Homo sapiens: one gene and its partner. The protein of the gene in region 2 interacts with the protein of the main gene of each other region in a pairwise test. Each region holds a gene or a part of one and is shown on either strand. Other genes may lie near its edges.

Region 1 (3,828 bases), on a different chromosome or scaffold from region 2:
AGATGATAGAGAGAATCATGAAGGCCTGCACTGTCTTGAGGGCATCTGTAGACACAGGACGAGGAGAACAAGGGCATGAGGTCACTCCAGGGGCTGAACATTCCCTGACCACACCTATTGTCAGCACTGGGTCAATATCTTTATATATACCTTCACTGGCATATGACAGGCTGTCACTGCAGCTAATGTTGGTACAGTTTTTCCAAAGACCTACTGATGCATCTACCGTATTGGAAACCAACCAGACCTGAAACCAGAAGGAAAGAAAATGTTAATTGAAAGCTGGCCCTCTGATTTAAAAATAAAATAACAAATCAGCTTGCATCGGGATCAGATTTTAATAAAGACATTCTATTTAGCTATAACTATGGCTATGCAGCTTATCTGTGGGCGGAAATAAGGTCCGATTAAAACTGAAGTTCACAAAGTTGCCAAGAGAAGAGACACAGAAGAATGTGAAACCCAGAAAGAAATCACCTAGCCCTCTTTGGGCTCCACATTCTTCACGACTTAACAAAAATGGAAGTAACTCAACCACAGTGGTTTAAAATTCTAAGGTTCTGAGAAACAGAAGTCCAGGATGAGGAAACTGGCTTAGGTATGTGCAGTTCATATACTCTAACAAGATTGTTTCATTTAAGTCCCTGGTTAACCAGGAAAAAAGTGAAATGTCCAACTGGAAACAATTAAGAAACATAAGACCTACTGGGAAAATAACAATGAATCTAGTGGTTAATAAGCCACTTTCATCTAAACAGAAGGATCAAACTTGACTGTCACAACATGCAAAGTAATTTGATAGTAAAATACTACAGCAAGTGCTTTCCTGTAGGGGCTACTAAAAGCTGAAGGGTGACCTGAATGGATTCCCCCAGACTGATCATGGTGCCGCCATCCCTTCCTGCCTGGCCCAAGAAAAGGAATTATCCTTCTGGAAGAGAAAACAAGTGCAGTGTCCTGTCTACACACACACAAATGCACACACTGGAAAGGTGGGGCCGGGAACATGCATCACCTACGCCAATCCCTGCTCTTCATTCAATAAACAACTGTGTGCCTAGCCTTATATTAGGGGCTGGTAATTCACAGATACGCAGCGCTTTGGCGCTCATTAATACACTTTGAAGAAGCTTATCAGATTTATCTGGATAGATATAGGAGTTGACATATAGAATGGCTAAATTACAAAACAAGGAGGTCACGTGGGCGGGGGTTGTCTTATCACAGTTATTCTTAATTAGCCTTGCTTATGATCACACCCACTAATGTTTGCAAAGCTCTTCTATCTGAACTTTAAAACTCACTTATACTTTAACTGTGATAGGGACCTAAACAGATTCTGAAACCATGGTTTGCCTGCCTAGTGATTGGTGGCCTTGGTTTTTAGGTCCAAGGAGCTGGCTTTTTTCTGAGAAAAGCACAAGTAAAAGCAAATTGGGCGCTGTAAGCCACCACTAGAGGTCAGAGTAGCCCAGGGTTCAGAGAGAAAAGACACTACCTCCATTTTTTTTTTCTCGTTTTGTCTGAGTTAGTTAATTCAGTGGCACTGGGTTAATCTTGCAAAACTCCACTTTCACATGCTACTCTTTGCTCAAAATTTGAATTTGTCAGTCTGGCATCCTCTTCTTCCCATCTATCCTTCTAATCAAGCTTCTCAGAAGGAGGGGAAGTTCGGCTCCAGCCACATAGGTGTGTGTCCTCCTTATCCTCTGACCAAAGCTTGTCCTTCCTACATATGCTCCTTTGCTAGCACTCCCACCTGAATGCATCCCTATGATCCTTCCACCTTCCCTCTTTCACTAAGAGAAACCTCAGCCATCTACCACTCCTCCAGGTTCACCTCAAGCTCCACTCACCCCTGCTGCTGGGAAGGCTCTTCTAGAGACCGAAGAAGCTGCACTAGATCCTCCAGCCCTTAACCACCTACAGCTCTGGCAGGATTACTCCTGTGGACATTCACTTTTATCCTCCTGTTATTTAATTGTTTGAAGGGCAAGCGTGTGTTTATTTTGTTTTCCCACAACTGAGCTGTAAGTTCATGAAGGGCAAGGGCTGTGGCTTAAACTTCTTTTGTGCACTTGATGTAAATATTCGAATGATTTCTCAATGAATGAATGAACAAAAGAACATTACTCACATTGGCAATGGTGCTAACAAATAGCATAATAACAGTAGCGATGTGGACCACAAAGATACCAGCCAGCAATACCAACATGTTGGCTCTTTTTTTTTTGGTAACTTGTGAGCAAAGAGAGTTCTGAAAAGAAAAAGAAAGGGACAAAAACGGTTACTGTCAGATTCAATAAGACGACTCAGCTTTCCCACACGTGTGGGCTATCTGCTAACATGAGGAAGAGCTGCACTAAAAACCATCACAATCTAATCATAAATTCCTGAAAACACCCCTGTAACCTAGTTCTGATTTGCCTAAGTGCCTATTCATCCAGTTATACATACCTACATGGAAACAGAATTTGGTTTCTTCTTGGGTATTTACATATTCATTTCTCTAATACATTCTATTTCAAAAAAGGAACAAGAACATTTTATGATAACTGTTCGTATTTTATTTTGTTTGTGTTTTAGAGGTTAAAAATAGGACTTTGATTTTCAAAGAAGTAGGCCTTTATAATTTCCAGGTCTCTGAACAATGTCATATAAATGTCCATTTTCCACTAGGAAAATGTCCATGCTTTCATCAAATTGCTCACCCAGCACTTTTAATAGAAGTAAATGCCTTCTGAAGAATAGCAGCTATTACTCAATGCCCATATACTGAATAGGCTACTAATATGATCCTGGGCGAGATATAAAATGTGAGAGGCACAATTCTATTATTATAATGCTGTTTGGTTTTCAATAATTATAACAACCTAATTACAGTTTAATGGTCTGGTCACCCTGTGACTGAGCATTTCAGACTAGTATTACTACACCTGAGCCTTTGGGCTCTGTGTGCCTCATGGCAGGAAGCCTGCCATTGGTCTGGGCAGAGAGTCATATTTTCCACAGCTCAATGTGATGGTTCTGGGGGCTTTAAAAGTAATGCAACTTGAGATAGCACCAAATGTGCCTTCTCCTTGTACATGACATTTACACAAATTCCAATCCTTCAGGACTCAATACAGAAGACAGGCAAATGCATAAATCACAGGGTGGGAGGATTGGGAACTAATATCGATTAAGAATGTGCATGGATAAACAAAAGCTTTCAGCCATAATCACAGCAGAGAAGGGAGCCCATTGATCATAAAGCCTAGGAAATAAAGGAAGTGTGAAGGATACACATGGGGGAGGCTATTCTGATTTATGTCAGCTACAGAAGGAGAGCTTTGTCATGCCTAAGACTGTCACAAAGCAGTGCAGGCTCAGAGGGACATCAAAAGGAAAGGGCTTGAGGTTATTCACACCCTAGACAGAATGGATGTGTGGATGCCCCAACCAAGGGAGGAGATGGCCAGGCGCATCCTGCAATTGTTCCACTGCCCTCTCTCACTCCACCTAATTTAATTGATGCTTTGAATGTGCTTGAGGCACTTTCATGCCACATCAGGTATTTATTAGAGAGCACTGATACTATAATTCCAACACTTCACATGCCTTTTATCTCCTCTCACTGTCTTTATCAGGCAACCAAAAATCTAGAGTGATCTAATATACATCAGGGTGCCTTGCTCTCTGCAAGCAAGGAATGAGAGGCAGACAATGGCTTCCACCATTCTCCCTGACCGTCTCCAACAGCCCCTTCCCAATCTGGCCACTTCCTTCCAACCCAGGCTGTTTTTTAGGAATGTGTCCAACTTAACTGTGAATGCAAAAATTATGACG
Region 2 (2,691 bases):
CAAGCACTTCCAGCCAGGCCACCAAGCACCATCACTTACCTAACTGACAGCCCAAAGCCAGCATTATATGTAACTCTGGCAGGACTAATCCCCTTCGTTGCCCCACCACTGGTCATGCTGATGACAAAAACTTATATTCCCATATTAGCTTTTACTCAGATGGCTTATGGAGCCAGTTTCCATCTTTCTTGGGTGGGATCAGATGCGGTTTTGCTCTACCAGAAGGTAGTCCAGCCAAACCAGACTACCTTAATTTAGCTAGCAGTACAGCTCCTCTTTTCTTTTCATGGTTTGCCTTCTTATTTCTGAAAGACTTAGTGAAGCCATAGTCACAGTAATAATGGGTATGCGGGTAGCATTACACCTTCAACTTTTTCTCTTACCACATTATCCCAACTGGTTTAAAGCCCTGAAGATAGTAGTCACTTTACTGGCCACTTTTTCATTTATAATCACTTTAGTAGTTAAAAACAGTTTTCCAGAAAAAGGACATAAGAGACCTGGTCAAGTATAAAAAATCTAAAAATACACTGTAGATAACATTTGTATGCCGGCTACACCTTTTTCTACTTCTGTTTGGCTTTTTTCCCCCACACCAATGGTAATTTATTCTCCACGGATTGTTCTTCATTTCTAGAAATTGTTATTTCATAGTAATTACTTGAGCAAAAGCTTGAAAATCCCTGACAAGTACTTTTCATCTCATAGTGTATTAGTTTTCACTCAGTCATTTTATGAATAATATAGTTATCCACTTAAACATTTCAATATTTTAACCATCTTGAAAATTAAAAGATTAAAAATCCCCCCCACCCGACCTCCCCCCCCCAAAAAAAAGCCTACTCCTTAGGCTGAACTGGGTGCATCTGCCAGACCATATGTGGAGGGAAAGGTCCTCAGACACAATCAGCACAAAATCACAAGGTCATCTTGGATGTGGGCAAACCTTGTTTTAATTGCAAACAACTTAATTTACAGCACATTCAATAATGAACCAACAGGAGAGTTGCTGACTTTGTAACATATGAATATATAAAAATCCCTTGCAATTCAGGTAGTCAAGGTAAAAAGCGCATACAAGGAAGGCAATCCTCATTTTTCTGAAAATGTTTACATTTTAAAAGGTGACTAGACATACTTGGAAGTTCAAAGCAGTAGGATGTAGCTTGCAGGGAAAAGAAAACCCTTTTCCATGTTGTTAGGCAGAAGTATATCAAATATATCCCAATTCCACTTGATAAAGTCAGTTGGATGACCTCCTTGAACCAATCTAGGGCAGAACACTTAGTAAAAGCGGGCCCTGGGTGGGGATGTGAATCCAGGAGAAGAGGGGCACCAGATCCCATGCAGCGCCAAACACATCCATTCCACCCTCTAACACATACGAGGCATGTCACCCCATGTCCCTGGACACAAGATCCACAAGAACAGTCAGCAGATGGTCACTGCTCCCACGGCCTGGTGCTTTCTAATGGTCTTAATTCAGGCCATGGAGAAAATCCTTTACCACCAAACACAAACTGTCATTGAACTTCAGTCATAAAGGATGTTGTGGGGGAAATTCTTGTAACACATACATAAGGACTTCTATTTACCTAATTAGAACAATGATTACACAATTGACATTCCTGTTTCCATAAGGTTTTGTTCTCTATGCTGGAATGGCTGAAGAAAAAGTTGTCTATTTTTGGTTTTATTTTACATTTTCAAAAGAGAGGGAACAGAGAGAAAAATGCCCAACTTTGGGGCCCAGCAGGTACAAAAGCAGACTTCTAGGTCCATCAGATTTGGGGGAAGTTTCAATGCCTAGGGAAGGTTAGTGAAGCCCATTATATCCCCAATCGTACAGGAAGAATTCTACAGTTAATCTATCACAGTGTTCCAGCAAAGCATATGTTGAAAACTACAGTTTTCAATCTAACATCTAAATTTTAAAAAGTAGCATTTCAGCAACAAACAAGCTCAGAGAGGCTCATGGCAAAAGTGAAATAACAGAACTATTGCTCAGATGTCTGCAAAGTCAAGCTGCTGCCCTCAGCTCCGCCCACTTGAAGGCTTAGGCAGACACGTAAGGTGGCGGTGGCTCCTTGGCAGCACCATTCACAGTGGCATCATCATACGGGGGTAGCAGCACCTGAGAAGAAAGAGGGACGGCAAGAGTTAATGTTTGAAGAGCACACACGTTCCCCGAGGTTTAGCTTTTACTGAACTTTTATGCAACTAAACATGTTCCACAACTTGTACCAAGTTCAATTTTCTAGCAAGTGGATACACTTCATTAAAAGACTTTTTGAATCCTTAAAGGAGCAAATGGAGAGCGACTCTCAAGCCTTGAGTTTTTCTAACCCTGTCCATGTGTAGCTGGATGGCCAGAGGTCGGTGACTCTAAAAGAAATGGTGATGGCTCTGAAGAGGAAAAAAGACCCCTAGGTGAGTGTGTCCATGTGCACACACAAATAGGGCAGGCACTTGATTGACTACAGTAACCACTCATGGTGAGAACTGCAAAGTGCAGTGAAAACGCCAAGCTTTTGGTATCAGCCTGGATTCAAAGCCTGGGTCAGTCACATTTTATCAGCGTAGCCTTGGGTAAGTTCCTTAACATCAGTTTCCATGTCTATGAAATAAGGATACCTCAGAGTTGGCGGTCTATACACTGGCTGATTTCGGCTTTCTTGGAGTAGAAAATGG

What was found.
Region 1: the proteins of LAPTM4B (region 2) and EMP1 interact in binary tests that used the Homo sapiens proteins (3 or more experiments, as listed by UniProt).

The regions. Positions count from the first base shown.
Region 1 is NC_000012.12:13,209,898-13,213,725, reverse strand, and holds part of EMP1 (epithelial membrane protein 1), read right to left. Parts: intron 2,258-3,828; 5' UTR 2,216-2,257; coding exon 2,138-2,215; intron 248-2,137; coding exon 151-247; intron 46-150; coding exon 1-45.
Region 2 is NC_000008.11:97,850,840-97,853,530, reverse strand, and holds the end of LAPTM4B (lysosomal-associated transmembrane protein 4B), read right to left. Parts: intron 2,135-2,691; coding exon 2,057-2,134; 3' UTR 518-2,056; downstream 1-517. UniProt on the Homo sapiens protein: Required for optimal lysosomal function. Blocks EGF-stimulated EGFR intraluminal sorting and degradation.